Regions from separate parts of the Homo sapiens genome. Here all the other regions are linked to region 1. The links come from fine-mapping of genetic effects on gene expression. A gene starts in region 1. Each other region holds a variant in brackets. All regions are shown on one strand. Distances are from middle to middle. Region 1 holds the start of CD302 (CD302 molecule). Region 2 overlaps MARCHF7 (membrane associated ring-CH-type finger 7). Region 3 overlaps MARCHF7 (membrane associated ring-CH-type finger 7). Region 4 overlaps BAZ2B (bromodomain adjacent to zinc finger domain 2B). Region 5 overlaps LY75-CD302 (LY75-CD302 readthrough).

Evidence for each region. PIP is the estimated chance that this variant, and not a neighbour inherited with it, causes the effect.
Region 2: its variant is fine-mapped to the expression of CD302 in whole blood (INTERVAL, PIP above 0.99).
Region 3: its variant is fine-mapped to the expression of CD302 in whole blood (INTERVAL, PIP above 0.99).
Region 4: its variant is fine-mapped to the expression of CD302 in whole blood (INTERVAL, PIP above 0.99).
Region 5: its variant is fine-mapped to the expression of CD302 in whole blood (INTERVAL, PIP above 0.99).

What each region holds. Positions count from the first base shown.
Region 1 is chr2:159,794,984-159,800,118 of GRCh38, forward strand. CD302 (CD302 molecule) reads right to left here and starts at 3,225. Exons shown (of 6, transcript NM_014880.5): 1 at 3,149-3,225. The coding sequence starts at 3,215. The region is part of intron 33 of LY75-CD302 (LY75-CD302 readthrough); the gene reads right to left. It overlaps LOC124906083 (a long non-coding RNA gene), which reads left to right and starts at 207. Exons shown (of 2, transcript XR_007087273.1): 1 at 207-2,969; 2 at 3,836-5,135.
Region 2 is chr2:159,767,524-159,772,658 of GRCh38, forward strand. It overlaps MARCHF7 (membrane associated ring-CH-type finger 7), which reads left to right. Exons shown (of 12, transcript NM_001282805.2): 12 at 1-3,504. It overlaps LY75-CD302 (LY75-CD302 readthrough), which reads right to left. Exons shown (of 38, transcript NM_001198760.1): 38 at 1,105-4,530. The coding sequence ends at 4,328. CD302 (CD302 molecule) reads right to left here. Exons shown (of 6, transcript NM_014880.5): 6 at 1,105-4,530. The coding sequence ends at 4,328. Among named protein-coding and RNA genes, the nearest start is that of CD302, 28 kb to the right of the region's middle. The variant C/CAT (reference allele first, on the strand shown) is at 2,120.
Region 3 is chr2:159,736,171-159,741,170 of GRCh38, forward strand. The region is part of intron 4 of MARCHF7 (membrane associated ring-CH-type finger 7); the gene reads left to right. Among named protein-coding and RNA genes, the nearest start is that of MARCHF7, 26 kb to the left of the region's middle. RefSeq lists an enhancer at 1,419-2,411. The variant G/A (reference allele first, on the strand shown) is at 2,446.
Region 4 is chr2:159,602,673-159,607,807 of GRCh38, forward strand. The region is part of intron 1 of BAZ2B (bromodomain adjacent to zinc finger domain 2B); the gene reads right to left. Among named protein-coding and RNA genes, the nearest start is that of BAZ2B-AS1, 10 kb to the right of the region's middle. The variant T/TTGTGTG (reference allele first, on the strand shown) is at 2,260.
Region 5 is chr2:159,868,486-159,873,620 of GRCh38, forward strand. LY75-CD302 (LY75-CD302 readthrough) reads right to left here. Exons shown (of 38, transcript NM_001198760.1): 13 at 3,966-4,108. LY75 (lymphocyte antigen 75) reads right to left here. Exons shown (of 35, transcript NM_002349.4): 13 at 3,966-4,108. Among named protein-coding and RNA genes, the nearest start is that of LY75, 34 kb to the right of the region's middle. The variant C/CT (reference allele first, on the strand shown) is at 2,189.

The sequences.
Region 1 (5,135 bases):
GGAGGCCGAGGTGGGCAGATCACGAGGCCAGGAGTTTGAGACCAGCCTGGCCAACATGGTGAAACCCCATCTCTACTAAAAATACAAAAGTTAGCCAGGCATGGTGGCGCATGCCTGTAATCCCAGCTACTCGGGAGGCTGAGGCAGGAGAATTGCTTGAACCCAGAAGGTAGAGGTTGCTGTGAGCCGAGATTGCGCCACCGCACTCCAGCCTGGGTGACAGAGTGAGACTCCATCTCGGAAAAAAAAAAAAAGAAAGAAAGAAAAGGTGGCAGCAATAGATTAAGATGATTTAAGGCTTTGAATTCATTATGAAATGAGTGCATAGCAGAGGTAATATAATTTGAAAAAAATTGCAATCCACTTATCCTACCTACTTTTTAAATAACTCACCTAAATTTTTTCATCCTTTTATTATAACTTAGAATAAAGTGCAGAGACACAAATCAAAACAAAACAAAAATCCACAAGATGGTAAAATCTCTGTTATGGAGCTTCTTTCCCCTGGTAAGAGAAGCAACAAGCAAGACAGATGAATAAACACAATGCATTCAGAAAGGCTTGGAAAAGATAAAACATGGACATGTGACAGAGAATGTGGGTGTTCAGGGAGGCTTCGGAGAAGGTGACATATGAACAGAGATCTGAATGGTGGAGGTGGGGGCAGCCATGCCAAGGACTGGGGGAAGGTGGTGTGCACAGAAGGACCAGAGGTGTTGGAGTACCCAGATACTGTTTACTCTGTGGATACACAGAGTGAATGGCAGGAAGGGTGGTAAGAGATGACATCAGGGAAGAAGGCAGAGGCACCTCATCTAAGGCTTGTAGGACATGGCAATTCAAAATCCCTAGATTCTGATCCACATGATGATCACAGAATGAGGACTTACTCGGAACATGCTTGTTCACTCAGCTCATGCCAGGCATAGGAAACCACTGACCAAATAAATACATACTGATCATCTATTATGTGCTTAAGCACCCTTACGGAAAAACTTTTTAAAGCGATGCCATGGATTTTCACTCAGGAATTTAAAGAATGTTTTGTCCACTGTGATTTTCAAAATAATAGCTAAGAACAAGGTTAAGATCACTTCACTAATAACCTCCAGAATGACAGACAATAACAATGATTTCCGTTTCAACATCACATTTATATGCAATACCCATATTTATTATGCAACATCATAAGAGCTTTTCTATTAAGATCTTGGTATTCAGCAACAAACTCTTTCTTGACTTAGTTCTAAGCCAAATATGACCCCTGATCTTGCTTGGATGGGAGATTTGTAAAGTATTATGAAAAACACACTTAGTTTTTCAGCCCTATAACATTAGCATACATATGAATGTGTTCAGTAACCATAAACATCCAATATACATAAGGTGGTATTCATACGTTTTCTGGTTGCAACAATTACCCTTCATTTTGTATGAAGAGAATAAAGGGAAGGAAACCAAGATGAACCACGCCTGTAATAGGGACTAGACGTGGAGTTCCCACTTAATGCTCCCAATAGCCCCATGAGTAAGTATTATCTCTGTTTTACTGAAGTGCAGATAAGTTGGTTAACTAGCTAGGTCAAAGCTCACACTCATTTCCAAATTAATCCTTAAAGCTTCCTGACTGGGAGGAGCTGATTAATTAACATTAATTTATTCATCATGCACTTTTCTAAAGCTCTTGAAAAGCCTATTGATCCACACTGGACTTATCAAAGGAAATGCACAAAAATTTCCAAAGGGAAATTTGCCCTCTATTGCTGGTCAAAACAGCTTCACTGAAGAAGAGACATACCAAAATCTAGAAACTGATTTTCTTTAAAAGTCTGACAAGAAAGAAAAATCTGACAAGAAAATTCGACTAGCCTAAAGTACAAATGCACAGCCTCGCAGAGGGTGGTTTACATGAGAGTTGAGATGTTACTGGCTCGCAAAATGAGGGTGTGCAGAAGGAGGGTTCAGAGACAGCCCAGCTTTGTCTTAGACAAAATTAATGTTCCCAGTCTGAACAATGTGAACATGGGCACATCTTGTTTCTGCCCCTTTGATAGGCAGCAGATGTCACAACCAGTCATAAATGCAGGTCCACAGAAGTTTTCAAGAAAGGAACCTTGGGTTTGTATCCAAGTTCTGAGCTGCTGCTGCCTCCAACACTGAGGTCCACTGAAATATTCCTGTCAGTAGACTTCGAGCAGGCAGTTATTATAAAAACGCAGTGAAATCTGGGGCAAGGGGTGGGGGGGGGGAATCTCTTGCATTTTATTTAAATCTCTTGCACTTTATTTAAGCCCACACAAGTACTCATTTAGTTCTTGTTTATTTTGCTCTTTAATTCCTGGAATTATTCAGTCAGTGGTGTTTTTGGAAGTCTGTGTTCTCCAGAGTCTCCCCATCCACATATTTTTGACATGCTTGTATGGAAATTTTTTAAAAATAAAGACCACGGTCAATAGAATTGTGCATTTTCCTCACGAGTCGTTTTGTAAATGAATGATCACGTGTGTGATTTTTCAGATGTCACTTGCACAACAGCAGACTAGAACTTTAAAACTCCTTGATTTCAGTGAAATCCAAGCTTTGCCTATTCCCGTTCCTCTTCCATCCAGGGGTTATTTGGCTGAACTGTTTTCCTGTTTAAACAACTTGAACACCAACCAACTAGACAAACAGCGCTGCTTGCAAAAGAGGGCCTACTTCCTCCGGCCCCCACCCCCATCCCAGCAACCCCACTCCGGCCGCGCACCAGCAGGGGAAATCGCCACCAACGTCCCCGCTTCTCATTTCAGCCCGAAATTGCCCTGAAACGGCGCCCGTCGTGCGACTCCAAGTCCCTCAGTTCTCCGGCCAACTGGCCTAATTTGGGGGTTCCCTCCCCGCGGAGTGGGGTCTGCGGTGAGGATGTGGACTCCGAGGAAGACAGAGCCCTCCCTTATTCTCGGCCACCTCCCCTCCCCGAGGGCAGGCGGGTGAGAGGTGACCCGGAGCCAGGACCCACGGGGGACGGGCGTGCAGGGAAGGGCGGGATGGCCGGCCGGGTGTTGCGTCTGCGGGCCGCCCTCGGGTGCGCGGGGACGAAGAGCGTGCGTTGGGAAGGGGGCGAAGGCGGTCGCGCACGGTCCCGGCGAGGGACTACGTAAGGGCTTACCCGCGACGGCAGCAGCGGCGAGGCCCAGCAACGGCAGCAGGAGCGCGGGCAGCGCGGCCCGGAGCATGACGGCGGGTGCGGGTGGGCGGCAGCGGCTGCGCGGCCGGAGAGGAGCGGGGCGGGGCGGGAGCGGGGGCGGTGCTTCTCGCGTGCGAGTTTAATCCCCCCCCCGGGCGGAACGTGAACGGCACTGGGGGCTCCCACCAGGAGAACCCGGGTGTCCCGTCCCGCAGGAGCGGCTGGCGCGCGGCCTTCTGGAACTTCTAATTTTTGTTTTTTAAACTTTTCATTTGAATTGAAATAATTTAGGACTTTCGAAAATGTTGCAAAAACAGCACAAGAGATTTCCGTAACCCTTCAGCCAGCTTCTCTAAATATTGACATTGTATATAACGCCAGTGCAGTGATCAAACACAGGGCACTCGCACTGGGATAATGCGATTAGCTAATCTACAGCACTTACCACATTTCATTAATTGCCCCTCTAAGGGTCCTTTTCTGTTCCAAGATTCAATCCAGGATCATACATTGCATGTCGTGTCTCCTTAGTCTCCCTTTAATCTAGGACGGTTCTCTGTCATTCTTTTTCTTTCACGATCAAACCACATTTAAAAAGTACTGGCCAGTCGTTTTGTAGAATGTCCCTCAGTTTCATTTTGTCTGACATTTCCTTCTAATTGGATTCAGGTTGCGCTTTTTTGGGAAAGAGTTCCCCAGAAGTGATGTACGTGCTCGAGAAGGACAAGATGTCGATGTCTCATCACTGATGTTAACTTGGATCAGTTGGTTAAGGTGGCGTTTGCCAGCCTTCTTCTTTGGATCTACTGGCCAGAATCCTCCTTTTCAAAGACCCCTTTCAGTGGACTATGTCTCTTAGACAACTTTTCTCTGTTACCAGCTCCTGGATGAAGAGTCTTTAAGCTATGTTTGCTACAATGTATGCATAAACTGTGCAATTATACTTCACCCATGAGGGCCTCTGGACAACACTAGCCAGGGTCAAGCAAGGGTGCTTGTTTAAGCCTCATGTCATTGGCAAAAGAGTTCTATAAAATCAAGTCTAAACTCAACAACGTGAAAACAAATGACCCAGTTAAAAAAAATGGTCAGATGATCTGAATACACACGTCATCAAAGAAGTTATATAATGGCAAATAGATGAAAAGATGCTCAACATCATATGTCATTGCTGAATTGTATATGAAAACAAAAATGAAATACCACTACATACCTATTAGATACCAGAATCCAAAAACACTGACAAGACCACATGCTGGCAAAGATGTGGAGCAAAAAGAACTCTCATTCAATGCTGGTGCAAATGCAAAATGGTACAGCCACTTTGGAAGACAATTTGGAAGCTTCTTCCAAAACTAAACGTACTCTTACCATACCATCTAGCAATCACAACTCCTTGGTATTTATCCAAATGAGTTAAAAACTTACATACACACAAAAACCTGCACATGAATGTTGATAGCAGCTTTATTCATAATTGCCAGAACCTAGAGGCAAACAAGATGTCCTTCAATAAGTGAATGGATAAACAATGGCACATCCAAACAATGAAATGTTACTCAGTACCAAAATTAAATGAGCTATCAAGCCACAAAAAGACATGGAAGAACTTTAAATATGTATTGCTAAGAGAAAGAAGCCAATCTGAAAAGACTGCATACTATATGATTCCAACTATATGACATTTTAGACAAGGCAAAACTATGGAGACAGTAAAAAGATAAATGGTTGCCAGGGGTTGGGGTGGGAAGAAGGAGGGGATGAATAGATGGAACACAGAGGATTTTTAGAGCCATGAAATTATTCTGTAGGATACTGTAATGGTAGATGTGTATCACTATACATGTGTCAAAACCCATAGAATGCACAAAACGAAGATGAACCCTAGTGTGGACAATGGACTTTAGTTAATAATGTGTCAATATTGGCTCATCCACTGTAACAAATGTACCTGCTAATGCAAGATGTT
Region 2 (5,135 bases), 27 kb before region 1:
TTCTGCTGGACTTTTTAACATAGCAAATCCGATGTTTATAAACTGGTAATCAAAAAGGTTTTTTCTTTTAGGTGAGTGGGAAAGTATTACCCTTGTTTTAAATATCTAAGCAATGCCTATCAACCCTTTTTTGTGTTATGATTACTGTAGTCATATTTATGAAAAAAGGTTTGTGTTTTACTCTTGCTAGTGAGAAAAGTGGGACAAAATATACTTTTGAAATAAAATGCTATATGGCACCTAATTATTTTTTCTTTTAAAATGCCTTAAGTTGCAGTCTCATTTTGATAATCATTTGCTTCCAGTGTTTAAAAATTAAAAAAAGAATGGGGAGAAGGTTATGAGAAGAGCATTATTAAGTTTCCAAATTTAATTTGAATTCCAAATTCACCTAGCAATAAAATCTAATTTTTAAAAAGTATATAAATATAAAATGTATAAATGATGGATAGATTTTTGTATTGATTTGCAAAATGCAGATTATATTTGATAGGCTATAGTATGTAGATATTCCTTTTAGGAATATTACAGCTGTAAATTATATGAGACTTGCCAGTCAAATGCTATTTGGTTTAAAAAAATTATTGCAATCTCAAGTTAATGGAATATTTTTAAATCCCACATTCAGAGTTTAAAACACTGGTTTTCAATGTGTTTTTTAGTGTTGTCACTTGTTTATAGATAAATATATAAATAACCTGTTTGGATCCTGGTCCTTTTTAACTGTTCCTTGGTAATTCTGAGCATTTATTTGATGACTTAATATTTTTCACTACCTTTGGAGAACAGATGAACATTATTCACCATGAATGGATCTATACTGTGTGGTCATGAGTTGTGTATACTTCCATAACACTGTATTTTTCTTCTGTCAGTACCCTTAGGATACACTTTAAAACACCTTAAGGTCTGATGTTATGGCAACAAACTACTTTTTCAAACCTAAATAGGAACCATGTAATTTCTCAAAAGTGATTGAACAGTTTGCCCACACTTAGTTTGTTGGTCTTATGTAAAACATTGGCTCAAAATAAAGTACACACTGATTTATTTTACTGTTTGAAATGTTTCCTTTTAAACTGGTGCTCAAAGAAGACATCAGACTTCATAACCAAGAATTTTATTACAATTTCAAATCTCATTTTAAGCAATAATATAAATGTTCTAAAACATTTGCTCACCTCTTGCCAGTTACCTTTGCATTGTCTGTCTTAAAGCAAAAATATAAAATTTAAGGGTGGTAGTTTTAATATATTCTGTGGGTCCTAAGGGATGCTTTGAATTTGAAGTATATATACTTTTAATAAAATTCAGTATGACAGTTGTCTTCTGCTTAACCCATAAAACTTTATTTAAAAAATTTAACTAGATGGTACAAAACATTCATTGGTATGCACATAATTCTGTATAGTTTTGTTATTAAATGCTAAATGACAGTGATAACAATGGCTTAAGCTTTACAGTATTCTTGTAGTTCCCTAGTACCACTTAGTATTTAAATATTGTCATATTAGCTTCAGATTATCATGTAAATGACGGTAGAGGAATAAGAGAAAAGGCTTTCATTGGTTATCAGTTTTAAATTCTGAACAAAAGAGACCATACACTGCTCACTACAAGAATGCAATTTTCTAAGAAAATGTAGTTTAAAATGTTATTCTGAATATCTGCCAAAGAATTATATTGTTATTACTAGCTAGAACCAAGATGTTGAAGAAAGCAGTTTCTACATTCTGGATGTAGTAAACAAGCCTGCCTGTGTAATCCAATTATCTCTTCACTAATGAGTAGATAAGGTGCCTGTTATAGATGTTCTGGTATATAAAGAAAAAATGTAGGCCAAGTGTGGTGGCTCACGCATGTAATCCCAGCACTTTGGGAGACCAAGGTGGGTGGATCACTTGAGGTCAGGAGTTTGAGACCAGCCCAGTCAATATGGCGAAACCCCGTCTCTACCAAAAATACAAAAAGTTAGCTGGGTGTGGTGACAGATGTCTGTGGTCCCAGCTACTAAGGAGGCTGAGGCAGGAGAATTGCTTGAAAACCTGCAAGGCGGAGATTGGAGAGAGCCAAGATCGAGCCACTGCACTGTAGCCTGGGCAGCACAGTGAGACTCCAT[C/CAT]ATATATATATATATAGCACTTCATTACCAGAGGCCTCTTGGCCTGTTGAAAAATGAAACCAAATATTGAAAATTAAATCAGAGTTTAAAGCAGCTATTTTGGAAGAGCTGCCATTAGGTAGAAAGTATCAAAATGTACAAAAGAAAGTTGTATGGGAGTTGAGTGGAAGGTAGGATTTAAGAGCAGCACTGCCCAATAAAACTTCCTATAATGAAAATGTTCTATAATGTATGTTGCCCAGTACAGTAGCCACTAACCACCTGTGATTTGAACACTTGACAATGTGGCTAATGTAATTCGAAAACTGGATTTTAAACTAAATTTACTTAAATAGCCTCATGTGGCTAGTGGCTCATTGGACATTGTAGTTGTAGACGTTTGAGACTGTTGGTTTTAAGTTGGACTTAATCACTTTCCTACCCAAATTCTACCACTCCTTTAAGAACTCCTTTAGAACTCTTTTAGTTCACATAATACGCCATATTTTTTTTACTGTGCCTGTAGTTCTTCAAGGAGTGGTACAATTTGGGTAGGAAAACCAGGCAGGAATTCCAGGGTAGTGTTCAATATTGACATTAGTAATAGTCTATCAATAATAAAATAGACATCTCAATCACTATACAAAATCTCAGAAATGTAAAGCTCTTACAGAGCATGCTTGTGCTTGTGTAACAGCTGGTGTAATGCCTGCATTTTCAGTACCATGTAGCCGCACTGTTAATAGTTTTCTATCACTTTTTAGTTACTCATGTCTCATTAATGATAGTGCCATTAATTGTGATGAGTGTTTTCGATTCATGTGGTCAATAAAAAGAGACTACACAAGCTGGAACTTTGTTGCCATTAGTCAAGCTAGTGAGATAGTATATCTATCTATCTCCCCAGAAGAAAGTAAGATAATTGATGGGGTGTGGATTCAGAAGAGGGATTACTTTTCTTTGAGCCTCAGACTTCTAGACAGTATACTTCAGTCAGTAATGGACCACATATAGAACAGTGTTTCCTTAGTAGACCATATTTTTACTGTACCTTTTCTATATTTAGATACACAAATATTGTGTTACAATTGTCTGCAGTATTCAGCACAGTAACATGCTGTGTAGGTTTGGGACAAAATAGGCTCTACCATCTGGGTTTGTGTAAATACAAGCTGATTTTCACACAAGATTCCCTAACTATGCATTTCTTAGAACGTATCCCCATTGATAAGTGATACGTGACTAATTTACGTGAAATTTATACATTCTTTATCTTTCCTGTTTTTGGTTTATTGATGGTGAGGAAAATTACTCGTTTCAGCTTTTTCATTTTTTTACTCCCCAAATGATTTTCACCTTTTTCTTAAAATGTACAATAAATGCACTGAAAACTTTGATCACTGTCACTACAGTTGTACTTAAGTGTTTTTCTTCGGTTTTTGCTTGCACAGTTTTCATGTCATTGAAGGAAAAATTTATAAATGCTTGAGGAGAATGAGATACATCTTGTATAGGGGAAAGTACAAAAGGTATGGTGGCAAGAGAGAAATCCTTAAAGGGGCACTATAATATGTAAGTGTTAACCTAATTGCCAGCTTTCTCTATGCCATCCTGGACACAGCGATCATATTTTGTTTCAAATAATTTATAAACATTCATTAAAACTTGAGTCATTTGTGATAAAATGGTGTGTGTAAAAGTAATGAAACTAAAATTGGTGTGGGGTGTTAAAAGTTGTAAAATTTTCTTCATCTAAATCATAAAAAGATACACATTCTAGAGGAATTATCTGCCAAAAAAATAACAATTATCAAAGATATTTAAATGTATGGGATGTACTTAAAATCACTTATTCCCCATTTCATGTTTACTAATAAACATATAAACTAAAGTGGGTCAACTAAATAGGGAAGATACAGCAGGCAAGACAAATAGGCTGGGCTTTTATTTTTATCTGCTTGGGCTTTAAGCTTTCCTTCATTCAAGTGACAGATTCTGCCTTTGACGGGATGCTTAAAATCACTATATTAGATCTAAGATCATTTCTAAAACCTGTTTTTTTAATGAACCTAAAGACTTTTCACAGCAGATGAGTACATAAAAATGTTACTGGAATAAGGAATACCATTAAAGCTCTAATATCCAATGTCAAGTTTTATATTAAAATCTTTCCCAAGTTATCTCTGCCAGGGCATTTTGTTGATGTCTTAGTGCAAGATTACCAAAAACTTAGTCAAATTGAACAGGATATTCATTTTCTTCTCCAACTACCAAAACACAGTCTTCATTATAAGGTGATTGGGGTGCGGTTGAAAAAACTGTGGTGAAACGAGAATCAGAATGTTTTTTGTACAGGAACCAAATGATTGCTCCCAAAACTGTCAAAATTACCGTGCTAGCAATCACCAATGCTGATATTAAAATGTGGTTATCTGAAAAGGAAAAGACAAAAGAGTATTTGGGAAATTAGGGTACACAAGTTGCAAGTATATTTTGATGAGCACAACTGTAGTTTTGTGTAAACATTTCTCTGTGTTGAGAATTTCCCACACTGATGAGAAAACCAAAAATTTCGCATTTGTTACTAACAAGATTTATATTTCTTAGCCTGAAGAATAGTACTCAAATTTTCTAGGAAGTTGTGCACTTCTCCACTCTACTGAAGACCCCATAGTGGAAATCACGCAAGTATATACCATGCTCCAGTTTGTCTTCCTTCGCTTTACTTTCTGATCTAAGACTACAAATTCAGACCTACTGTTCCCTTTAGGAATTCTAGTATTTAGATAATGTGTTACATTATTGAGGTTTAATGGTTCACCTGGCTTTGGGGATTTAAGATTTGTTTAACTGAAAAAAACACCAAGACCTGCAGTAAAGTACCTGGTTTTGTGTGTCTTTGCATTCATTCATTCTTTGTGTGTTTCCCTAAATTTCTGTAAGTATGCACAACTTTGCAGTTCTTGCCTATTCAAACCCTTGTAATCTTTCTATAAGAATCCAGTTTAATAAATTGAGGAAAATAACCTGGTTTAGG
Region 3 (5,000 bases), 59 kb before region 1:
GTTCAATCGTTTGGGGAACTGCCATACTGTTTTCAAACTGGCTAGATCATTTTACATTCCCTTTTGTGTGTATGAAGATTCCAGTCTCTCCACATTCTCATCAGCACTTATCTTACTTTCTGATTCTAGCCATCCCAATGGGTATGAAGTGGTATGTATCTCATTGTGGTTTTGATTTGGATTTCCTTGATGACTAATGATGTTATACATCTTTTCATGTGCTAATTGGCCGTTTACTGTACATTTTTCAGAAATGCCTATTTATAATAGTTCCTTTGCTCATTTTAAAGTACACTTGTCTTGTTACTCAGTTGTAAGTGTTCTTTATATATTCTAGATACAAGCTCCTTATTGGATACATGATTTGCAAATATTTTCTCCTTAAGTTTTTTTATTTTTTTAATTGCATTGTTTTAAGGGCATTTGTGTTGGGAAAATATTTTAAAACCTTAGAAATAATTTTCTGAAAGCAAATATTGACTTATACAATAGTAATAGTAAATGATTTCATTGACTATACTTCCAGTAAACCTCTTGTTGGAAAGGTGGTATGAATAACTATTATGAAGGTAAAAAGAAATAAAATGAAAATTGGATGCCTGCTAGTTATATAAAGTCTTGGAAAGTTATTTTCTATTCATTGTGCATAGAGTATCTATAGCTATTAAGTCTCCAAGCTGTCTTATTGATGATTTCTCAGATACACTATATAGTATTTCAGCTACTTTGGTTGGGCTAGATAGCCCTCCACCTCTTCCCTCATTTTATTGAGTTATAATTCATATACCATACAATTCACCATATCACAGATAGCCTTTTGAATTGGAAATAACTGATGAAAACTATTTACTCTGGGAGCCAAATCTGTTACCTGTCTGGGTAGAGACTGGAAAGTTAATGAAAAAGAAAGAAACCTCTTTAAACTCCAGTGTAAATTTAGTTGCTTCCATCTAGTTTCATACGAGTGCTCATAGTCGGGAGGCAGGAAATGCAAAAAAAGATTGATTAGTTTTCATAAAAATTAAAATTTGTGTGCATCGATACCAAGAGAGTGAAAAGACAATCCACAGAATGAGAGAAAATATTTGCAAAGTATATATCTTACTGGATACTGAGACTTGTATCCAGAATATATGAAGAACTCTTACCTCTCAACAATAAAAATATAACCCAATTTCAAATGGGCAAAGGACTTTAATAAACATTTTTCCAAAGATATATTAATGGCTGATAAGCACATGAAAAAATATTAGTCATTAGGGAAATGCAAGTCAGAACTACAGTGAGATACTTAACACCCACTAGCATAGCCAAAATAAAAAAGATGGATAGGCTGGGCACAGTGACTCATGCCTGTAATCCCAGGCCTGAGTTGGGAGGCCAAATCTGGGAGGATTGCTTGAACCCAGGAATTTGAGACCTGTGCAACATAGTGAGACCCAGTCTCTACCAAGAAATAATTTAAAAATTAGCTGTGCATGGTGTCGCATGCCTGTAGTCTCAGCTACTCTGGAGGCTGAGGTGGAAGGATTGCTTGGGCCCAGGAAGTCAAGGCCACAGTCACCTGTGATTGCATCACTGCATTCTAGCCTGGGCAACAGAGCTGAGACCCTGTCTCAAAATTAAAAAAAAAGATGGACAATCACAGTGTTGGTAAGTGGTGGAGAAATTGGAACCTTCATACATAGTTGATGGGACTGTAAAATGGTACAGCTGTCAGCACTTGGAGTGTTGCTTTTCCAGCTAGAAGCCTCTGTGGCTGGTGGTGCCTTTGCCCAGGTTTTGCTCGGGCCTGCTGGGTGTGTTCTGCCTACTCGGACTGGCAGGCTTTGTTCGACTCGTGCTATCAGCTCGGATCCCACGCCTGCCAAGGGTGAGCCAGACATGGATCGGCAGGGGGTGCATGGGCAAGTGAGCGCAGGGTCCGGCCACCGTTTACAGCCAGGCACACTGGGTGCAGTGGGGCAGGCAGCTCTAGGCACTGGTGCCCTATGAGGCTGTGGATGGATCAGGTGTACCACAGGCAGCAGCTTCTGTGGGCACTGAGGAACGCAGTGGCACCCAAAAGCTTGGAGACACAAGGAACTACAGAGCCCCAAAGAGGTTGTCACAGCCCTGGTTCAGGGAGCTCCTAGGTCTGGACTCCCCAAAGGGTCAGAGCTCTTCCGTCCTTGTCGCCGGCAGCATGGTGAGTGGGGGGTAGGAAGGGATGTTTCAGCACTGTTTGTGTTACAGCTCTTCGAGTCCCACCATTTGGCGGGTCCCGAGTTCTTGTCCCACGTCCAGAGAGAATGAGGTACACAGACAGTTGGAGGGTTAGCAAGGCGAAGAGGGGCTTTATTGAGCAGTAGCACAGCTCTCAGGAGACCCAAAGTGGGTGGCTCCTTTCCACAGGCAGGTCATCCCAACGAGTGTGTAGCTTTCAGTGGAGAGGAGACCAGACAG[G/A]AGTGGGTAGCTCCTGTCCATAGGGAAGTCAGCCTGACATCTGGCTGAGTCAGATTTTCATGGGCTTCAGAGAAGAGGAAGTGCATGCTGATTGGTCCATGGGAGGCAATGGGTGGGCCTGGGATAAGCACCATAAGTTCTCACTCCGGTCCGTGGAACTGGCAGCCCAGCCTCCAGGCTTCAGGCCATCCCAGGCTTAAAGGTAGGGTTTCACTAGGGACCTGCCCCTTTTCACCCAGGAGCATGTCTGCCTCCTGCTACTGTTCATGGCACCCAGGCTGTTTGTGCCAAGGGATGCCTGCAGACCCATGCCAAGCCACCCTCAGTTCCCCCTTGGCTTCCCTTTGTGCTTGTTGGTGCCCAAAGTCCAGACGGGGGCCAAGGTAGCAGTGGGCTGGTGTGTCGGCACTGCCCCAAGCATGCGCATACACACCTGGATCGTGACAGTGCCCAAGCTTGGCCAAAACTTTGCTCCAAAATCGGAGCAGGAGGCGGGGGCGGGAAGGGAGGCTTCTCAGGCCCCTGAGAGCACAGGGATACCCAAGTCTACAGCCACAGCTGGGTCAGGGAGCACAGGGCTCCCACCCCACCAACTTGGAAGTGGTCAGGGCTCCCACCTGTTGCTGACTCTGTGGAGCGCACAGACCCTGCCACGCCTCCCCTGCTGCAGCCGGCGTCTTTGTGGCAGCCGCTCCAGATGAACTGCTGCTGCCATCACAGCTGTTAGCATCAACCTATAGTTGGAAAAATAGTAATTCCCCCAAATATCAAACATCAAGTTACTACATGATCTATCAGTTACACCCAAGAGTATTGAAAACATACATCCATACAAAAATTTACAGTTGTTCATAACGGCATTGTTTATAAGTGAAAACAACCCCAAAACTACTTGTTTAAGGATTCGTCATGCCCAATGTGGTATACTTTGAAGACAGACTTATTCCCTGATTTCATTTGGCCTATAGTTCTGGACAGCAGAAGAGATAATACATTGTTAAATGAATCTGACACTTTATTTAATTGTTCAAAGAATTCCGAGGGAAAAAAACAATTGCTTCAGACTGAGGATATTTGAACAAATATGGACAAAATTGGATTGTAGGAACCAGGAAAAGGTTTGATTTTGAACTCAAGCCAATAGCAAAACTAACCAAAACATTCCTTCTATATACTGACATTATGTATACTGATATGTATATCTATATGCTGATATTAACAAACATTTTTTGTCTTGGATATAGCCATATAATCTACATGTTGTGTCGTGAGTCATGAAAATTGTTTAATGAACAGTGAGTGTCACTTTAAGTCTTTGGACACTTCAGCATTCAAGAATCAAATGAAATTCATTATCTAAATCTGCTCCCCTATAATCAGTATTTTTAATGAATGGCATAGTCATTTATTTCACCAGTAGACAGTACCAAAAAACTTTTTTCTCTATTTCTCACATTGTCCCTAAATCTGATGAATTTTTATCTTTTATAATTGCCCTCTATTCCCATTACTTCATAGGGACTTATTTCTTGATATTCTAATGGCTTCCTAATTGGTTTTCTTTCTGTTCATCTATTTCGTCTTCCACATGCCTCTAAAAGTCTTTCTATATAGTAGTAGATCTGATTTATCCCCCCCTTCATTAGTTCCCAAAATCATGTTTGCAGAAGTGCTGTTCAGTAAGTTTATGCAGTCTGTGCAAAATGAGAAAAATAATGACAAGTTATGGAGTTTGTACAAATGTATTCAATTTAAAGTGCTCATTCTGAATTATATCCTTTATTCCTTTTTTAAAAATTGGGGACAGGATTAGGTATTAGTTGCTATTTTAGATGTCCTACTGGTCAAAAGTGACAGTTCTTTCTCAATTTTAAATTAAAACATTTTTTTATTTTGGTCTCTGAAATCCAGAGGTTTTAGAACCACTGGCCTGCAGGATAAGGTCCCTGATACCTTGATGATGATGGCATATGAAATGGTTTGATTCTAAAATATCAAATTAATTTCATTTCTTGTGCTAGCTCCAGTTCATTGATTGGGTGTCTGTAATATTAGGTACAGAAGGCTTGTGAGACTAAGTTTGTGCTAAGCTGAAAAATGCCATTATCAATTTACAAAATATTCTCTAGGCAAAGGATGGGCGAATTCCTGATGTAGCCCATTCCTACCTTTTCAGCCTCACACCTTCTACTTTATTTTCAAAGTTTCTTTTCCAGTGTTACCATGAACTAATACATCCCCTGAATGCAGGCAATATGTTTCTCATAATTGAACCATATTGGCTGGGTGCAGTGCCTCATGCCTGTAATCCCAGCTGTTTGGGAGGCTGAGGCAGGAGGATCACTTGAACCCAGGAGTTCAAAACAAGCTTGGGCAACATAGTGGGACCCCATCTCTATAAAAAATAAATTTAAAAATTAATAATTGAAGTATAATAGAAAATAAAGTATAAATAGTAATGTCTTAGAAGAAAGCCAGGCCAGATGTGGTGGCTCACACCTGTAATCCTAGCACTTTGAGATGCTAAGGCAGAGGATTGTTTGAGCCCAGGAATT
Region 4 (5,135 bases), 190 kb before region 1:
TCAAGGCTCTCTTTGCCACATATACAAACCAGTTAATATTTTCCAGAATACCATAAAATATTCATATTCTTTGACCCAGCAATTCAAGCTCTAAAAATGAATCCTACAGAAATAACTTAGAATAAAAAAAGCTGAGGGATGTTTGATGATATTTCATCCCATCATATAATAACATAAAGTGAGGCTAGGCATTGTGGCTCACACCTATAATCCCAACACTTTGGAAGGCTGAGGAGGGTGGACTGCTTCAGGCCGGGAGTTCAAGACCAGCCAGGTCAATATAGTGAAACCCAATGTCTAATAAAAATACAAAAATTAGCCGGGCATGGTGGCATGTGCCACTAGTCCCAGCTACTTGGGAGGCTGAGGCAGGGGAATTGCTCGAAACCAGCAGGCGGAGGTTGCAATGAGCCGAGATCGCACCACTGCACTCCAGCCTAGGCAACAGAGCGAGACTCCGTCTCAAAAAAACAAAAACAAAAACAAAAAACTTAAATGCCCTAAGATTGGATAAATTATGCAGTCTTTTAAAATACTTAATGACAAGAGAAAATGCTCATGATATAATCCAAATAATTAAGAGCTAATAAACAACGGAGAATGCAAAAACTACATAACAGCTACTTCGTAAAAATACATACATTTTAAAAATGGAAATTAAAACTTGTTTTATTTAAAATGCCGTAAGGAGGCATTTCTGTTAGAAGAAATGCTAATATTTGGAACTAGGACTCTCTGAAATTTCTTTCCTCAAGCTCCAATTTCACCACTATGCATTCCCACATTTTTTCTTTCCCTCTAGTTACAATGAAAGAGTATCCCTCGTTCTAGTTCGTGATTATCAGTCTAACATGGATCTGGAACCCATTTCTTCCCATTTCTTACAGAATCTCTGAATTATATCCTCTGCCCCTGTATCTTCATTCACCCTGTTAAAAAAAAATCATCTTCCTATATTTCCTTCCCAGAAACTACCAAATTTCTTTTCCTCCTCCTTACAAAAAAAAAAACAAAACCCCAAAACTATTTAAACATGTTTCCATTTCTATAGCTTTAATCCAAACCACTCCACTGAAACTATTAATGCCAAGGTCACTAATGTCCTTGTCACTTAATCCAGTGGATTATTTTAGTTCTTTCTTAGGTAATACCACAGACACATTTCACTCTATGGCCACTCCTGTCATTTTCATCTTTTGCAGGAATAGGTTCATGACACTAACCTGCTGTTTCATTAATGAACACCTTCATTTCAGTAAATATTTCATTTCAACATAAAACAAACTAATAATGCATATAGTAGCCTGTGAATAATAGAATTTTGAACATTTGAAATTTTTATCAATGCTTTTCTGTATTTTTAAAAACTTTTATTAATATTTTATAGTGAAGAAATACATTTTTAATTTTAAAGAAAAGTCAAAGGACAATGAATATGATTAACTGTAAGAAGGAATAAGTAACTGGCAAGTTGTACAGCTGCATATACCCTTTTAACATAAACAGGCAAATGACACAAATATGATATGGGAATTTATTTTTTTTAATTCCAAGTTATATTCTCAAATAGTTTTTTTCCCTTTCTTATACATGTATTTTATATTTTATTTTATTTTTAGAGGTAGGAGTCTTACTATGTTGCTCTGGCTGGTCTCACACTCCTGGCCTCCAGCGATGTTCCCACCTCAGCCTCTCGAGTAGCTGGGATTACAGGTGTGAATCATCATGCCCAGCTATTTTTAATTGACACATAATAATTGTACATATTTGTAGAGTACAATATTTTGATACTCAAATAGTTTTAATTTAGGCATCTAAAATGTAATAGAATTACTTACCAGTATGATAAGCCTGCCTTATCAAAGAAGCATAGTTTGAATACTCTCAATATATTTAATAAAATTAGTATTTTTTCAAAAGATTCCTGTCACAAGAGGTTGAAACAAAATTACAACCAAAACATGACAATGCTTTAAAAAATTGACCTTTAGTTATCTAGCTCAACATTCCTTATAATAGAAATTTTAGAGAATACAATATCACATGAAAATATGGTATAGATAAATGTTGATGGGAAGTTGGGCCTTAACATAGGCATAAAAGGACAGTTTTACTAGCAGAAAGGAATGCAGAATCATTAAATGTCAAAAAATTAAAAATATGAGAAATAACTATAAAAAGTTTGGTGAGGAGGGCATTTTTCAGCTTAAAAGTAGGAAAATTATTGTTAAATCTAAAGAACTGAAAAGTTAATATATT[T/TTGTGTG]TGTGTGTGTGTGTGTGTGTGCGCGTGTGTGCGCGCGCTAGGAGAGAGAGAGAGCCAGGATCACACTCTGTTACCCAGGCTGGAGTGTGTGCATGCACAGGAGAGAGAAAGAGAGAGAGACAGAGACAGGATCTCACTCTGTTACACAGGCTGGAGTGCAATAATAGCTCATTGCAGCCTTGAGCTCCTGGGTTCGAGCAATCCTTCCACTTCAGCCTCCCAAGTAGCCAGGCCTACGGGTGCATGCCACCACACCCAGCTGATTTTTTTTTTTAAATTTTGTGTAGAGACCAAGATCTTGCTATGTTGACCAGGCTGATCTTGAACTCCTAGCCTCAAGTGATCCTCCCATTTTGGGCCTCCCAAAGTGCTGGGATTACAGGTGTGAGGCACTGCACCTGGCTTGATAAGTGATTTTTATTTATTTCCATGGGTAGCTGTAGGATTATTTTTAGCTCACTTTTAAAGTGCTGAGATTATAAATATAGAAATAAACATGTATTTTTACCCATGTACATGTAATTAATTTAGTTGGTACCTGCAGTATATTAAATGCTACTTGGAACAAATAAAATATTTGCAAAAATAATCTATTTCACAAAAGGTGGCTCATATTAAAATGCAAAAGGTCAAATTCAAGGTACTACGTCACAGAACACTTCATTATAAAAAAAAAACAGCTGGGCCCAGTGGTGCATGCCTGTAGTCCCAGCTACTCAGGAGGCTAAGATGGGAGGATCTCTTGTGCCCAGTTCAGTCCAGTCTGGGCAACAGAGCAAGACCCTGTCTCTAAAAAATTAATAATAATAAAAATTTAAAAACAGTAAACTTCTGGTCACATTCAATTTAGCTTTTCTTCCCAGGCATGCCTTATTCCTACCTTCCCATTTCACACACAGTACAAAAACATTTTCACGTTCTTTAAAACAATTCTTCTCTTTTGTGAGTTTTGGCAAGTGTACCTACAAACAGGCTTCCTGCAGCGGGAAGGGCAAAGAGAGCTTTTATCTAACTGTCTAAAGTTATTACATGTTCTCTTCCTGGACCAAGTGTTTACTATTCACACTGCCCTTCCCTAACCCTTCAACTTTTACTTCAAATCCCCAAGGCATGATTACAGATAAGAGTTATTTACCCAACAAGCTGCAGAAAATATTAATGACAAGGCACAGAAATTTAATGCTAAAATACTTACACTACTATGGACAAAATCTTGATATGTTCCAAAAGGACTTGATTACATAACAATGCTCCACTCTGACTGCATTTAGAAACCTTATTTAAAATTGTCTCCTTTTTTGTTGTTTCTGCCCAAACCCTAAGAACACTTAACTTTGGCTCCAAAGTAACCCCTCTTTTAAAATAAAGAGATTTGACCCACAACTCTGTCAGTTAATGTTGCCTTGCAGAGCCTGTTTTTCTCAGCATGCTGCACTAACAACCCAGAAACGAAGAAAAGGTCATTTTGTGACTTATACACGGCTCCTGATTTTTTCAAATGTTGAAGATAGGTTTTGGTGCTTCCTATGTCATCACAATGGTTTATGTTAACAGTAATACATTACCCAAAGATCAGAAGCATGTTTCAACAACCATGTCATCATAGAAACCAGAAAAGATAGTAAGCATGGCTTTGAACTAAACTTAGACACTAGATAACTTTTTATTTCCACTGTTTTCCATCTTTAATTTACCTCAAAACTTATCCTTGTACAAGATAAAAAATGGTTACATAAAAGTTTTAAGGTTTTCTTATGACAAATCTCTTGCAAGTAAATGTTCATCACAATACTGCAAATAAAACATTTAATATGCAATAATAATAAATTTCATTATTATTATGATGTAGTAATAATGAAGTTAGGAAAAGACTAACTACTAAAATTTATTGTCCTTGGCCAAGACATTATGTAAAAGATCTTTCATACATTTGTGTTTTGAAAATTTTTTAAATCTTTCCTTTTTCATACTCTTTTTTAGTGGGATTTCTATTTTTTTTTTTTTTTGAGACGGAGTCTCACTCTGTCACCCAAGCTGGAGTGCAGTGGTACTATCTCAGCTCACTGCAACCTCCGCCTCAAAAAAAATAATTTTTATATTTTTAGTAGAGACAGGGTTTCACCATGTTGACCAGGCTGGTCTCAAACTCCTGGCCTCAAGTGATCTGCCTGTCTCGGCCTCCCAAAGTGCTGGGATTACAGGCATGAGCCACCACGCCTGGCCCTCCTTTTTGTCCTTATGGATATGCCCGTTACTGGCAGTCCAGCAGTCTGCTTGTCTTCTGCATTCATCCGAAGGAACTAAAAGAAGTAAAAGTGTTTTTTGAGCCAGAGCCATCATCATGGAGAAAAGGGATACACATATATCACCCTCTGCTCTCTACTCAATGTTCTTAGCAGGGGGGATCATGCATTAGATTTCCAGAAAAACTGTTCACAAAAGCATAGGAAAAGAACCAAGGAAAAGGGAGGGGTTCTGGTTAATCTCAAAACAGAAGATTTGAATACCTCTAACCAGAAAGGGTAGTTTTGTCAGTTTTAACCCGGCCTTCACAAATAAGCCTATCACTGAAATGGAGGATTGAAACTGATTAACCCATCTTCTCCAGAAAAAGCCAAGCAGTCAATTTTGAAAGGAAGGATCCCATGACATTTTCTTTTCCTTCTAGTGGAAGAGGTATGGGTTGGGGTGACCTTGAAAAGGCAGAACCATCCCAGATGTCAAATGGATTGGCTCTAATATAGAGCTCTAGCTCTATATTTGTTCTATAATAGGCTTATGCAGTCCTTCTTTTCTTGGATCTTTTCTTCCTGATCTGTGAATATTCAAAATTTAATTGTTCTTGATCTAGTTCAATGCTACCTAAACCGAAGGGC
Region 5 (5,135 bases), 74 kb after region 1:
ATTACTCATTTTTATATTTTCCAAATTTTATATAATGAACTTGTATTAATTTTTTAAAGAAGGGAGTGCTCAACAAGTGTGATTCAAAACAAAGAAACAAATCATAAAAATTTCCTTTCATGTTTTGTTTCCTAGTGTAATTCGTTCTGTATATGGATGCTCTTAATGGTCATTTCTATCACATATGATATTCCAATGTTTTCTACTTATTGTTTCTCACAAATATCTACAACCTCATTCATTAGTACTTATCCATGGCTCCTCGTTCCAGTTAGAGTTACTAACCTCTTGCTTGGAATCTAGAGCTTATGTCAGCATTTTACTTAAAAATACTTTATCTGGATAATATGATATTGTGTGTGTCAAGCTTGAAATCTAAGGGCCATTAAGTTGCCCTGCTTGAAACTTACATGTCAGGAAGTATTGGTGGTGTATTTGAAAGGCCATGCCCCACACATATACACCATGGAATACTATGCAGCCATAAAAAAGGATGAGTTCATGTCCTTTGTAGGGACACGGATGAAGCTGGAAACCATCATTCTGAGCAAACTATCGCAAGGACAGAAAACCAAACACCGCATGTTCTCACTCACAGGTGGGAATTGAACAATGAGAACACTTGGACACAGGGCGGGGAACATCACACACCGGGACCTGTTGTGGGGCAGAGTGATGGGGGAGGGATAGCATTAGGAGAAATACCTAATGTAAATGACGAGCTAATGGGTGCAGCAAACCAACATGGCACATGTATACATACGTAACAAACCAGCATGTTGTGCACATGTACCCTAGAACTTAAAGTATAATAATAAAAAAAAAAAAGAAAAAGAAAGGCCATGGTCCAGAGGTGGCCACCATGAGGACTTCCATGATCACCAAAGTCACACTGGAGGCTTTGGTCATGAGCAGAATGAATGTGAGAACTGGGTTAATGTCAGTGAAATCGGAAGCTTGTTCATCAGCATGATGGTAGGATTGGGCTCTCACTGGTGAAATATAAGTTATTTGAGATGCAGGGATTAGCTAAAATATTTAGAGAAACTCTCACACTTCTCAAGAGTGTATTAGAATCTTGCGAGGCCGCAGCCTGTATCTTAGTAGGGCTTGATTCGAAACAACCCCACATCCAGTCATTGGGTCAGGTGATTGTGATGGCCTGATACTCACTACAATGGGAACAGAATGCTGCCACAGAACACTGCCACATCTGCTTCAAGTAAATCTGTGCAAGGTGATAGTTAAAACACCAAAAAGGACAGATTGCTGGAATGTTGTCAAGCTTACAAAACACGTTGTATAAAATGTTTTGTGTCTGCTTCAATGAATGTTTGCATAGCAAATGTCTGTATGTGTGGAAAATTTTGGTCTGAATTTTGCATTTGTTATAATCTATTCTCAAGGTTGAGGGAATAGCTAACACTCACCTCACAAAGAACCCAAGAGTTAGTATTTAGTATATACAAATTGCCTTGGGTCAGTCTGCAGTGAAATTTTGTATATTAATTTCTAACACTGGACAATGATGTCTAGAATACCTGAGATTCTACGATAGATGCTTAATAAATAAATATTTATGGAACACAGGTATCATATTTTGCATTAGATTCCCAGTACACTGTAGTGAAACTACATTCTCTAATGAGAAAAACACAGCAGAAGCTATATTAGAGCAAATCTGGGCCAGGCACTGTGGCTCACATCTGTGATCCCAGCACCTTGGGAGGCCAAGGAAGGTGAATCGCTTGAGCCAGGAATCTGAGATTAGCCTGGGCAACATGGAAAAACCCGTTTCTACAAAAAAATACAAACATTAGCTGGGTGTGGTGGCATGTGATTGTAGTCCCAGCTACTTGGGAGGCTGAAGTGGGGGGATTACCTGAGTCTGGGAGGTTGAGGCTGCAGTGAGCTGTAATCATGCCACTGTACCTCAGCCTGAGTGACAAAACAAGACTGTCTCAAAAAACAAAACAAAAAGCAAATCTGGAAAATATAGAAATTTTCAAAGAAAACATTCTATTCATTTATTTTTTACAGACAGCATCTCACTCTGTTGCCCAAGCTGGAGTGCAGTGGCACTATCTTGTCTCACTGTATCCTTGAACTCCTGGGCTCAAGTGATCCTCCTGACTCAGCCTCCTGAGTAACCAGGACTACAGGTGTGTGCCACCATGCCCAGCTAATT[C/CT]TTTTTTTTTTTTTTTTAAATAGAGATAGGGTCTCCCTATGCTACCCAGGCTGGTCTCGAACTCCTGGTTTCAAGCAATCCTCTCACCTCAGGCCCCCAAAGTGCTGGGATTACAGGCATAAGCCACCACACCCAGCCCATAGAAAAGACTTTAAAAATCACTCAAAATCTTACTTCCTAGAGATATAATAGCCATTACCCTTTTTGCAGTCTAGTTTTAAATGTAAATAGTATATTTTTTACTCTTTGATAATCTGTCTTTTCCTCTGCTTAATATATATAAACATTTACACATTATAGTATTGTTTTTATCTTAATGTGCAGGAGTTGAATTTCAAACCAAGATTAACAATAGTGATGATATAGGGATACTTACCTTTTTCTGACTTTCAGGGAAATGCACTTAACAATGCTTCATCATTAAGTGTGATATGGCTATTAATTTGAGCTATTCTTCTATTCAAATAAGAATTTACATATTAGTTATATTTACTAAATATAAGTGTATATTTATGTATTAAACCAGGAATGAATAGTGGATTTTACCCAATGCATTTTCAGTACCTATTAAGATGATCACATGACTTGTGATTATTAACTCAATTGCTATTTGAGTAAATATAAGACAAGCACATAACATAAGCAAGTGAAGTGGGGTCAAGAAGTAATAAATTAGAGACCTGGCAAATTGGAGAGTCAGGCCCCATTTCAGGAGGCCACCAGCTACTCAGCACTAACTTTTATCTGTTGCACAATGAAAATGTTGCTAGTTGCTTTAATTTTTAAAATTAAAAAATTTAAAAAATTTTTAAATTTTTAAGGATTTTTATTAGAATTTCACAATTTTGTAGTATTTTGTGGCCCCTTCCTCCCAGGAAAAGAACATTATAGTCTTAGAGCTGGATAAGTACTAATTGGCAAGCTTTGTTTTAAGTCTCTTTCAAAAGTGCAGAATTGGACTTTATTATTATTGAACAAATTTGCAGACTCACACTTAATCAAAACTGATAATGGGCTGGGTGTGGTGGCTAATGCCTGTAATCCCAGTACTTTGGGAGGCTGAGGTGGGCAGATCACCTGAGGTCAGAAGTTCGAGACCAGCCTGGCCAACCCCTTCCTCTCTGTGTATATATGTATATATGCAGGTATATGTGAGTGTGTGTAGATATAAATACACACACACGCACCTTGTTTTTGTTTTTTGTTTGGTTGTGTTTAATTACTTAAGATCAAACTCCTTCCCTTGCAAACAAGGACATTCCAATTTCATATCCAAATTCCATTTTCTAGCTAATTTGTATGACTCATTTCTCCTTGACCATATCTGTATATTCTGGTCTTAGTTCCTTTGCTTATGTTCTGTTTTTTTTCTGGCTCCTTCTCCTTCTCCTATCTTGCCTTTTGAAATAATACCTACCTTCCAAGAATCAGCCTTCTTTATGACATTTTTCCTGATTATACTCCCAGAAACACTCCCTCCCTCCTCTGAATTCCCAAGGCCCTTCCTTGCCTATATTCTAGATTTTCTGCCATACATTGCTGTTGGACTTTATTAAACAAAGGGTAGGGAATACATCTCATTCATTTTTAGATTCCTCATAGTGTCTGCACATTAAGAGTGCTTAATGTTCCATGACTGCTAAGCACCAAATGACCTTTTAGATAATAAAACATGTCCATTTTTTTTCCAACAGAGAGTGAGGGTAAGAACATGTCAATTTTGAATATCTAGAGGACATCAAATTCAGCATAGAAATTCTCATTCTTAAAGTATTACCTGAACTGGTCCGTTAAAAAGTGAAGAAATTCCTTTATTTCATCCACATGGCTGAAGCTAGAAAGGTGTGCTCCAAGGGCTTGGCAGAATCGTTCAGCTTCTTCCCAGTTCCTCTTTCTTACAATTCTTTCTGCATGGAATACCTTAGCAAAATATAATATTAATTTGTTTTATGGTATTATCATAAAGTATTTCATAGTGCTAAAGTCAATTACTGTCACATGTGTGGGCCCCTGAAATGAATTCTTAAAGGTGTAGTGAAGGCATAGGTAAATGCACATATACTGAGACACAGACAGGTCCTGCTGAAAGTGTCAATTCAACTAAAGGCCAGCACAGATGCCAGTCCTTGTGGTCAGATGGATGGCCTTCCTCAGCCAGGCTGGGGAACTATTCCAACAAGATCCACGTTCTCCTGTATTCCTAGGACCTTGAAAGATAAAATGAACCAGGAGGCAAGGCTGTAAAGGATACATATAAATGCTTTGGGAGTAGCCTTTGGCAAAGAAATGTGCTAACAATAGAAATTTCGAATATAAGACACAGTGACCCACACAAAAATAGCACTATTTTCTGACGAGGAACAACCAAAGAGCAGTCTGCACTGGTGTGTGAATATTGACAGAAAGTGGCAAAAGTAAACCTGGAACTTGGGCTGTTTCAAAAGAAGAAGAAAGGAGAAAAAGAAAGAAGAAGAAAGAAGAAAGAAGAAAGAAGAAAAAGAGGAGGAGGAGGAGGCAGAGGAGGAAGAAGAGATGATGACACAATGACAGGATGAATTATATTTGTCCCAATTCTTCAGTTCCTTGTAATATAATTAGATGGTCTTGCCACAGCCCCCTGGTGGGCGGAGTATACGTCTTTGTACCTTGGCATGGGGCTTGGCCATATGACTTACTGTGTTGATGGGATATTAGTGAAGGTAAACTGAGCAGAGGCCTGAAATGTGCTTATATGGTTGGCTTGCCTTCTTGGGCTCCAGTGATATACCATGAGAACAACAAACCCCTGTGAGCTGTTGCCCTTTTAGCCTGAGCTCTAGAAGGAAGGGCTGGAGCCCAGCACAGCTGACCTGAAGTTGGGAGCAGAGGTCACCATTCAAGCCCAAACTAGATCAGTCAAACTCTAGCTGGCCTGAAGATCTGTGAGAATGTGAGGCTAAATGTTTGT